2 separate regions of the Homo sapiens genome follow, and region 2 is linked to region 1. Evidence: fine-mapped expression QTL. A gene starts in region 1. The other region holds a variant in brackets. All regions are shown on one strand. Distances are from middle to middle. Region 1 holds the start of MCM5 (minichromosome maintenance complex component 5). Region 2 has its middle 21 kb from the start of HMOX1.

Region 1 (5,370 bases):
TCACATCCTCGGTTGTTGCCTGGAATAAACGGTAAACATTTACCAGCAGCCTTGAGTTTTCTCAGGCAGGCACCTTAGCGGGGGCTGGCTAGAGTCATTTTAGAGATGTTAGCAGCTGTTAGAAACTGTTAGTGTTTGTTTAAGTCTTTTTTTCTTTTCTTTTTTTTTTTTTTTGAGATTAAGTTTCACTCTTGTCGCCCAGACTGGAGTGTAGTGGCACGATCTCGGCTCACTGCAACCTCCGCCTCCCAGGTTCAAGCGATTCTCCTGCCTCAGGCTTCCAAGTAGCTGGGATTACAAGCGCCTGCCACCACGCCCGGCTAAGTTTTGTATTTTTAGTAGACACAGGGTTTCACCATGTTGGCCAGGCTGGTCTTGAACTCCCGCCTCAGCCTCCCAAAATGCTGGGATTACAGGTGTGAGCCACGGCGCCTGGACTGTCTTTTTTTTCTTTTTAGAGATGAGTCTCGCTCTGTCGCTCAGGCTGAAGTGCAGTGGTGCAATCAAAACTCACTGCAGTCTCAAACTCCTGGGCTCAGGCCATCCTCCCACCTTGGCCTCTTGAGTAGCTAGGACAACAGGTGTGCTCCACCATGCCCAGCTAATTAAAAAAAAATTTCAAGCCGGGCGCAGTGGCTCATGCCTGTAATCCCAGCATCTTGGAAGGCTCAGGCGGGTGGATCACCTGAGGTCAGGAGTTCAAGGCTGGCCAACATGGTGAAACCCTGTCTCTACTAAAAATACAAAAAATTAGCCAGGCGTGGTGGCACACACCTGTAATTCCAGCTACTTGGGAAGCTGAGGCAGGAGAATTGCTTGAACCCAGGAGGTGGAAGTTGCAGTGAGCCGAGATCGTGACACTGCACTCCAGCCTGGGCAACAGAGTGAGACTCTGTCTCAAAACAAAAAAAATTATAAAAAAATTTCTAGAGAAGCGGGATCTTGCTATGTTGCCCAGGCTGGCCTCAACTCCTGGACTCAAGGGATCCTCTCATCTTGGTCTCCTGAAGTGCTAGGATTACAGGCATGAGCCACAGTGCCTATAGATCAAGGTTGAGGCTTAGAAGTGAAGGGAGCCCAGAGGAACCTGGCTAGAGTTTGGTCAAGGAGAGTCTTTGTCACCATACTACAGAAAATTAAGCAGCTGTTAAACAGAATGAGGCCGGTCTGGGCATGGTGGCTCACGCCTGTAATTCCAGCACTTTGGGAGGCCGAAGCGAGTGGATCACTTGAGGCCAGAAGTTCGAGACCAGTGTGGGCAACATGGTGAAACCCTGTCTCCACTAAAAATACAAAAATTAGCTGAGCATGGTGGCGCCTGCCTGTAGTCCCAGCTAGTTGGGAGGCTGAGGCAGGAGAATCGCTTGAACCGGGGAGGCAGAAGTTGCAGTGAGCCGAGATTGAGCCACTGCACTCCATCCTGGGGGACAGAGTGAGACTCCCTCTCAACAAATAAATAAACAAATAAAAGCAGTGTGTTAGGGTGCGAGAACCCGGGTCGGGGACGCGGGTGAGCCGCGCGGTAATCGCCCTGTCCTGCCACCAGCTGGAGGACAGGGGCTCCTCAGAGCCTCAGGCCCAGAGAACGGGCCCCACGACCGGGAAGCGAATACTCCACAGGGCACAGTCTCCCAATGCAAAATGGGCACCTGGACCCAATCATTTCTGAACTTCTAGTTTTTTCTCCCTATGGCTATGAAAAGGGTCATTTTTTTTCATAGGACTTTAAAAGAAGGCTTAAGAAAAGCACGCAGGCCTGGCCGGGTAGCTCACGCCAGTAATCCCAGTGCTTTGGGACGTCAAGGCAGGCGGGTCGCTTGAGAGTAGAGTTTCGAGACCTGGGCAAGATGGTGAGACTCCGTCTTTATGAAATATTTTAAGAAAATCACGTACACCTGTGGTCCCCGCTACAAGGGAGGCTGAGGCGGAAGGATTGCTTGAGCCCAAGAGGTTGAGGCTACAGTAAGCCGTGATCCAGCCACTGCACTCCATCCCCGGCAACACAACGAGACCATGCGTCAGGAAAAAAAAAAAAAAACCAAGAAAATAAAAAAGAAACCACCTAAAGGCGTCCTCCGCGCGCCCGCCCCTCCGCCATCTTTGCGTCCGCCCCGTCCTGCGCCGCCACTTCCTTCCCAGCCAGAAGTTTCGCGCCAAATTGTTCCGCACACAAAATGGAGCCCGGAAGGAGGCGAGGTCATGCACTTTGCAGCCAATCATCTTCGGCAGACAGTCCGGGCGGCGGGGCTGGAGGGCTCAGAACGGTCCAATCGCTGGCCGCGAGGCTCCGGCGAACCAATGGGAGCGCAGCGGCTGCGGCGTCCGAACACCGCCTCTTGTTTTTCCCGCGAAACTCGGCGGCTGAGCGTGGAGGTTCTTGTCTCCCCTGGTTTGTGAAGTGCGGAAAACCAGAGGTGAGGCTAGTGGGAGTGGGACTGGGACTGGGAGCCAGCAGGCATCTGGATTTCCGGGTGTAGTTGGAGTGGGACAGGAGTTTCTCGGGAACTGGGGTTGGAGTCCGGGAGCGCGGCCGGGGGTCCCCCTGCTCCGGACTCAGGGCAGGGACCCAGGCGTCGGAGGGGAGGAGGTGCCAGGCGCTGCCCCCAGCCTGTTCTGGCCGTTTGTTCCCACCCCAGGCGCAGTCATGTCGGGATTCGACGATCCTGGCATTTTCTACAGCGACAGCTTCGGGGGCGACGCCCAGGCCGACGAGGGGCAGGCCCGCAAATCGCAGCTGCAGAGGCGCTTCAAGGAGTTCCTGCGGCAGTACCGAGTGGGCACCGACCGCACGGGCTTCACCTTCAAATACAGGTGCGGCTCCTGCGGGGCCGGGGGCTCGAGTTCCAGTGTGGCCGCTCACACGCCTCTACCAGCCTGCTAGAGTCCTGGACAGTCAGGGCACAGATGGGCCCAGACGGGGGAAAGAGCCGGTCCTGGGTCACAGGGCTCATCCCGGCAGCCTCACGCCTTGGTATAAGGCTTTGTGTATTTTGTTTTACTTTATTTTATTTTATTTTATTATTAACGTATTTGTTTATTATTTTGAGACGGAGTCTCGCTCTGTCGCCAGGCTGGAGTGCAGTGGCACGATCTCGGCTCACTGCAACCTCCGCTTCCCGGGTTCAAGCGATTCTTGTGCCTCAGCCTCCCGAGTAGGTGGGACTACCCCCGCCATCACCACGCCCGGATAATTTTTTGTAATTTTAGTAGAGATGGGGTTTCGCCATGTTCGCCAGGCTGCTCTCGAACTCCTGACCTCAAGTGATCCACCCGCCTCAGTCTCCCAAAGTGCTGGGATTACAGGCGTGAGCCACCGTGCCCGGCCTGCTTTGTGTATTTTATCTGTACCTGGAGTTAACTTCTGGGTGAGTCACCTGTTGAGTGGGCCACCAGCAACCAGCTAGCGCCACTTGGACCGTTTAGTTCTTTATCCAGATCTTGTTCCTGTTCATCTGCTTCCTATCATCCTTCCATGTCATGTCTGAGACCTTACAAACTCAAGTTCCCTGTAGGTGTAAAAGGTGAAGATGGCAGTTAGGATTCACTTCACTTCGCTCATTCATTTATTTATACCAGTCTTGCACCTTCATTGATTGAGCACCTGCTGCCTGCCAGATACTGTTCTGGGTGCTGGGCTGCAGCACTGAAGCTGGACCTGGCTCCTGCTTCTAGGTGATTGTACGACCTGTGACATCATGAGAATTCTCATAGGCCCGGCCTCTATCCCTGAAATGTTAAAATGCAGAGAACATGAGGTTGCAGGTTCAGCACTGGCCCATTATTAGCTGAGTGACTTCCAGGTGTCAGTGTCTCTGGGCCTCACCAGGCCAGAAATGGGTAAAGCCATTCCTGCTTTCACTTACTCATGCAGCAGCTGATATTGCCCACCTGTGTGCCAGGCACTGCGCTACAAAGATGAAAAGACGTGCTTCTTGTCCTAGAGAAGCTCCTAAGTCAGAGGAGTGAGTCGTGAAGACCAACAGATAACTTCCACGGTGGTCATTTCCTCCACAGAGGAAGGTGAAAGGACTTAGGGAAGTTTTCCGGGGGGCTGAAGTTTGAGGGGACCTTTGAGCTAAGGTCAGAGTTGCAGGTGTAGAAAGCTTTCTGTCTAGGTAGGAGCAATTGCTTGTGTAGAGGTGTGGGGTGTCCTCACAGCAAGTGGCTTTCAGTAGCAGTCTGGCCATTTTACTGGCTCCTGGACATAAGGGAGACGGGGCTCAGGCCTGTGATACTGCGAGGCTGGGGAACAGCCTGTGCGTTGGTCAGTGGTCCCCAAATATGTTCTTGCCACAGCAGTCACATGGGATGCTCTGCTAAGCATCTGGGCTGGACGCAGTGGCTCATGCTTGTAATTCCGACGCTTTGGGAGGCTGATGCCAATGGATCATTTGACCCCAGGAGTTCAAGACCTGGCTGGGCAACATAGTGAAACCCAGGCTCTATTTAAAAAAAAACAGTCTGACTAGAGGTTGATAAGGCAGATGTGTTTTCTGCTGCCTTGGTGCCTCCAGTTTTTTTGTTGTTTTGTTTTTTGTTTTTTTTTTTTTGAGATGGAGTCTCGCTCTGTCACCCAGGTTTGAGTACAGTGGCGTGATCTTGGCTCACTGCAACTGCTGCCTGCCGGGTTCAAGTGATTCTCCTGCCTCAGTCCCCCAAGTAGCTAGGATTACAGGCATCCGCCACCACACCCGGCTAGGTTTTTTTTTTTGTATTTTTAGTAGAGATGGGGTTTCTCCATGTTGGTGAGGCTGGTACCTTTTTGGTTTTTTTTTTTGAGACAGAGTCTCAGTCTGTCGCCCAGGCTGGAGTGCCCTGGCGAGATCTCTGGTCACTGCAGCCTCCACCTCTGGGGTTCAGGCATTCTCATGCCTCAGTAGCTGGGACTACAGGCGTATGCTACCATGCCCGGCTAATCTTCGTATTTTTAGTAGAGACTGGGTGTTGCCATGTGGCCCAGGCTGGTGTTGAACTCCTGGCCTCAAGTAATCCACCCTCCTCAGCTTCCTAAAGTGTTGGGATTACAGGCATGAGCCACCTCACTGGGCCCCAAGTTTGAGCTGTGTGCATTGTTCTTTTCCAAGAGAAGTTAAAGGCTCTGCGGAGTCCTTCAGTGACAGAACTGGTTTGTTGTTTTGTGCACGCTGGCCTGGGTGTTGAAACATCCTTTGACTGTCTTGTGGACCCCTTCCATGGAGCTTTCTTTAGGGCATGCCTGTGCCAGCAGTGAGTAGCCTCTGCAGGGTTAAATAATGGAATGATCTGGAATTAGATGTGTGTTTGGGAAGAGGAATGGTGAGGTCATGGTGGCTGTGGTGTGGGCAGATTCAGGGGTGCAGGCACACCTCAGCCAGTGTTGGTTTCCTCTTC
Region 2 (5,370 bases), 41 kb before region 1:
GCTCTGTCACCCAGGCTGGAGTGCAGTGGTGTGATCTCGGCTCACTGCAACCTCCACTTCCCGGGTTCAAGCAGTTCTCCTGTCTCAGCCTCCCGAGTAGCTGGGACTACAGGCGCGTGCCACCACACCCAGCTAATTTTTGTATTTTTAGTAGAGACAGGGTTTCACCATATTGAGGTCAGGATGGTCTCGAAGTCCTGACCTCAGGTGATCCACCTGCCTCGGCCTCCCAAAGTGTTGGGATTACAGGCGTGACCCACCACGCCCAGCTGTCATTTTTTTAAAAAATATTTTTGCAGAGATGGGGTCTCACTGTGTTGCCCAGGCTGGTCTCCAACTCCTGGGTTCAAGTGGTCCTCCCACCTCAGCCTCCCGAAGTGCTGGAATTACAGGCATGAGCCACTGCACCCAGCCGAAAATATATTTCAAAGGGCAAATCCGACCATGTTTTACAATACCCACACCCCCAAAACCCAACACACACACCTAAAACCTTTCACTTGCTCTCAGGCTAAAGACCCACCTCCTGGCCTGGCCTCCAGGGCCCCTGGAGTCTGTCCCCTGCCACATTCTTCAGGTTCTCTGCACTCCAGACAGGCTGTCTTTCCCACCTCAAAAGTTTCATGCTGGGCTGGGCACAGTGGCTCACGCCTGTAATTCCAGCATTTTGGGAGCCTGAGGCATGTGGATCACGAGGTCAGGAGATCGAGACCAGCCTGGCCAACATGGTAAAATCCTATCTCTATTAAAAATACAAAAATTAGTAGGGCGTGGTAGTGCATGCCTGTAATCCCAGCTACTCGGGAGGCTGAGGCAGGAGAATCACTTGAACCTGGGAGGTGGATGTTGCACTGAGCTGAGATCGCACCACTGTACTCCAGCCTGGGCGACAGAGTGAGACTCCATCTCAAAAAAAAAAAAAAAAAGTTTCATGCCCTGACCACAGGGCCTTTGTATGTGCTATTTCCTCTAAAACAGGCCACCTGACTTAACTCATTCATCCTTCAGGGCTCAGCTACTGTGTCACCTCCTCAGACAAGCTACTCTAACTTCCTGACTGGTCATTCATCCGGCACAATGGAATCCACCTGCACAATTACGCTGGCAAAGAGGAATGGGATGACCACAGGATGGCTTAGAATCTCTGCCTCAGAGTAACCATGACTCACCTCTGGCACTGGGCACACCCTCCCTAAATCTATGATTCCATCTGGATCCCAAACAAATTGGGGTTCTGTTACCTAGGGGAAGAGGAGATGGCTGTTGAGTAGACAATCAACAGTGTCCACCACATTGCCATACACTGCACTCCCCAACCCAACCTCACTTGCAGAGGAGGAAGGGGGCTCGTAGACGTTTCTGGAAGGTGATGGCAGGAGCACGAGTGAGAAGGAAGTTGCCCTGCCTGGGCACTGGTCTCAGACTGGCCTGACAAGATGGGAGGTTGTGTGATGTATGATGAAGCCTCACTATTGGACAGTTTGTTTTTGATACAGGTAACTGCCAGTCATATCATGACCTCTGGGACACACACATACTAAAAAAAAAAAAAAATACACAGGAAAACCTCCCAGCTTAGTTAGCAATATGTAAGGCTTTTTGTCTCCCCCTCCAACAAAAACCTCATAAAGACTCACGTAGAGTCAGACTGATGGTGCTGTTTCAGCCAACCCGTATCCCATGCTTGCATACCTCCAGTGACAGGGCACTCACCACCTTCAATAGGAGCCATCTCACCTGGCCAGCCCCCCGACACTGATCCATAAATTAAGCTATAAAATCTAGTTGGCATATTGTTTAATGGGTACAGAGGTTTAGTCTGGGATGATGGAAAAGTTCTGGAGATGGATGGTGGTGATGGTTGTACAGTGGGAATGTACTTAATGCCACTGAACTTTACACTTAGAAGTGGTCAAAATGGGCCAGGCGTGATAGCTTACTCCTGTAATCCCAGCACTTTGGGAGGCTGAGGCAGGTGGGTCACCTGAGGTCAGGAGTTTGAGACCAGCCTGGCCAACATGGCGAAACACTGTCTCTACTAAAAATACAAAAAATTAGCTGGTCATGGTGGTGCGTGCCTGTAGTCCCAGCTACTCAGGAGGCTGAGGCAGGAGAATCACTTGAACCCGGGAGGTGGAGGTTGCAGTGAGCTGAGATCATGCCATTGCACTCCAGCCTGGGTGACAAGAGCGAAACTCCGTCTCAAAAAAAAAAGAAGTGATCAAAATGGTAAATGTTATGTATATTTTACTACAATTAATTTAAAAAACCACACACACACAAGCACCATCTCTCAGGCTTCACAACTTACCAGCTGTGTGGTTTTGAGCAGGTTACTTTTTTAAAAATCTGATTGGCAGTTAAGGCAAACACTTAGGCCCACTCTCTCCTTTGATCCCGATTTGCTTTGGTTCAGCCTCATCTCCCAAGCTCAGAAATTTGGGCTCCATTTTTAGAGCTTCAAATCCTGCCTCTTTTCTCTGTAGAGGCTGTAGCCGCGGTCATCCTCGCTTGCTAGGGGCCTACTGTGTGCTAGGCTCTGAGGATGTACGTAGCGAGAAATGAGTCATAGCCCTTGTCCTCCCAGCCACAGGGAATAGTCAGGGGAAAAGGGGTTAGTTAGTTGGATAGATAGGTAGGTAGGTAGGGAGGTAGTGGAAACCTGCCAGACTCCAGTCTCCATGAACCCCAGCCCAGCTGTGAAACTCCTGAGGACTGGTCCCTGATGTCCTGTGTCCCCAGATGCCCTCATTTAGG[TG/T]GGAATGACCACAGCACAGGATGACACTGGTCCCTGAGCTCTTGGCATGAACAGAATGTGTGTGGGGAGCCTGTGACCTAGGAATGTCCACAGCACAGGATGACACTGGTCCCTGAGCTCTTGGCATGAACAGAATGTGTGTGGGGAGCCTGTGACCTGGGAATGTCCACTGACACCGGTGATCATGTGTCCAGGAAGAGGAGGCAGGAATTCTCATCTCTGAGGCTCACTCTGCCCCGGGAATTGCAGAGGAACCAAGCAATCTGGGATCGGAGAACCCAGCTAACCCAGAGCAGTCAAAGTGGTGGCCCCAGGGCCATGTCAGGTCTTGTGGAGGGTGGTTGTTGTTTTTTGTTTTTTTTGTTTTGTTTTGTTTTGTTTTGAGACAGAGTCTCGCTCTGTCACCCAGGCTGGAGTGCAGTGGCCTGATCTCCGCTCACTGCAAGCTCTGCCTCCCGCGTTCACGCCATTCTCCTGCCTCAGCCTCCCGAGTAGCTGAGACTACAGGCGCCCACCACCACGCCTGGCTAGTTTTTTGTATTTTTAGTAGAGACGGGGTTTCACCGTGTTAGCCAGGCTGGTCTCGATCATCTGACCTCGTGATCTGCCCCCCTCAGCCTCCCAAAGTGCTGGGATTACAGCCGTGAGCCACCGTGCCCAGCTCTTTTTTTCTTTTTTTAACTGAGTCTATTGTCAATGTTTAAAAAACTGAACATTTCTTTTTTTTTTTTTTCCTTGAGACAGAGTCTCACGCTGTCACCCAGGCTGGAGTGCAGTGGCACAATCTCGCCTCACTGCAGCCTCTGCCTCCCAGGTTCAAGCAATTCTCCTGCCTCAGCCTCCTGAGTAGCTGGGACGACAGGCACCTGCCATCACGCCCTGCTAATTTTTGTATTTTTAGTAGAGATGGGGTTTTGCCACGTTGGTCAGGCTAGTCTTACACTCCTGACCTCAGGTGATCCGCCTGCCTCGACCTCCCAAAGTGCTGGGATTACAGGCATGAGCCATCGCGCCCGGCCACAAGTGCATTTTTGTTACATGGATATATTGCCTGGGCTTTTAGTTTAACCTTCACCCAAATAACGTAAATTGTACCCTGTAGGTAATTCCTCATCCCTCAATCCCCTCCCACCCAATTATTATTCATTTTTCGAGACAGGGGTCTTGCTTTGTTGTCCAGGCTGGTCTCCAACTCCTGACCTCAAACAATCCTCCTGCCTCAGCCTCCCAAGAAATAGCTGGGATTTCAGGCATGAGCCACCATGCCCAGCTGTGGTTACTGATTTTTCAGCAAGAGTCAGCCCTCTCCTTGAAAAGAGAAGAAGAGTCCCCAGCTGAACACCTGTTGTGTACCACACACTGGGTACACGAAGCTCCTACACCCCTGATCTCAGCTGGCCCTGGTAAGCCGGGATTATTAGTCCCATTTTCCTGATAAAGAAATGGAGATTTTGCAGGGTGAAGAGGTCACAATATGGGTTAAGTACAGAGTCCAGCACCCAGCTCCGTCTGATGCCAAAGGCCAGGGGCTTTCCACCACGCCCCCATGCCACCTTCCCAGGGGATGCCGCCTCGCCAGAAGTCCAGGGCACATTCTGGAATTTCTTCAGAGAGGACCTTGGACCCTCATAGAGATCCTTTCTCACAGCTGCCTGCTGGGGAGCCCTTGAGAAGCAAACACTTCCCAGCATTGGACAGGTGACACAGTGGGTCCACAGACACTGTCACAGGTGGCCCTCATGATGGTCAAGAGCCAATTTTTTGTTTTTTGTGTTTCTTGGGGTTTTTTTTTTTTTTTTTTGAGACGGAGTCTCACTCTGTCACCCACGCTGGAGTGTAATAGCATAATCTTGGCTCTCTGCAACCTCTGCCTCCCAGGTTCAAGTGATTCTCCTGCCTCAGCCTCCCAAGTAGTTGGGACTACAGGTGCATGCCATCACACTTGGCTAATTTTTGTATTTTTAGATCCCGGCACTTTGGGAGGCTGAGGTGGGCAGATCCTCTGAGTGCAGGAGTTGGAGATCACCCTGGCCAACATGGTGAAACTCTGTCTCTACTAAAAATACAAAAATTAGCTGGGCGTGATGGCGGGCACCTGTAATCCCAGCTACTCAGGAGGCTGAGGTAGGAGAATCACATGAACCCCCGAGGCAGAGGCTACTGTGAACTGAGATTGCGCCACTGCACTCCAACCTGGGTGACAGAGCGAGACTCCATTTCAAAAAAAAAAAAAAAGTTATACTTACAATTATTGACAAATAAAAGTGCCCTGGCTCTGCTACCTGCCTCCTTCCCTGTTCCCCAAAGTGAATGGGCAGAGTGAGGTAGTGGAGGTGGGGAAGAGAGGGACAGGCCCAGAGCTTGAACTTGAGCCAAGCCCCACAAAGGAGGAAAGACATGGATATCCCAGGCCTCTCTGAGGAGCACAGGACTCAGGACACTGGGTTATATAACTGCAGGGGCGCCGTCCACACTCGGACCATGTGAATGGGCCCTGGCTGGGCAGTGCAGAGCCTGCATGGTGCTCCAGGTGACAGGTGGCCCAGCAGGGCGGGATGGATCTATCCTAAGGGTACCGTAGCACCCCCTTCCTTGTTATGCAGGTGTGGAAA

The links. PIP is the estimated chance that this variant, and not a neighbour inherited with it, causes the effect.
Region 2: its variant is the best candidate, but not a certain one, in a credible set for the expression of MCM5 in whole blood (INTERVAL, PIP 0.72).

What each region holds. Positions count from the first base shown.
Region 1 is chr22:35,397,795-35,403,164 of GRCh38, forward strand. MCM5 (minichromosome maintenance complex component 5) reads left to right here and starts at 2,346. Exons shown (of 17, transcript NM_006739.4): 1 at 2,346-2,414; 2 at 2,637-2,811. The coding sequence starts at 2,645. RefSeq lists enhancers at 1,891-1,940, 1,951-2,110.
Region 2 is chr22:35,357,019-35,362,388 of GRCh38, forward strand. No RefSeq gene overlaps it. Among named protein-coding and RNA genes, the nearest start is that of HMOX1, 21 kb to the right of the region's middle. The variant TG/T (reference allele first, on the strand shown) is at 2,758.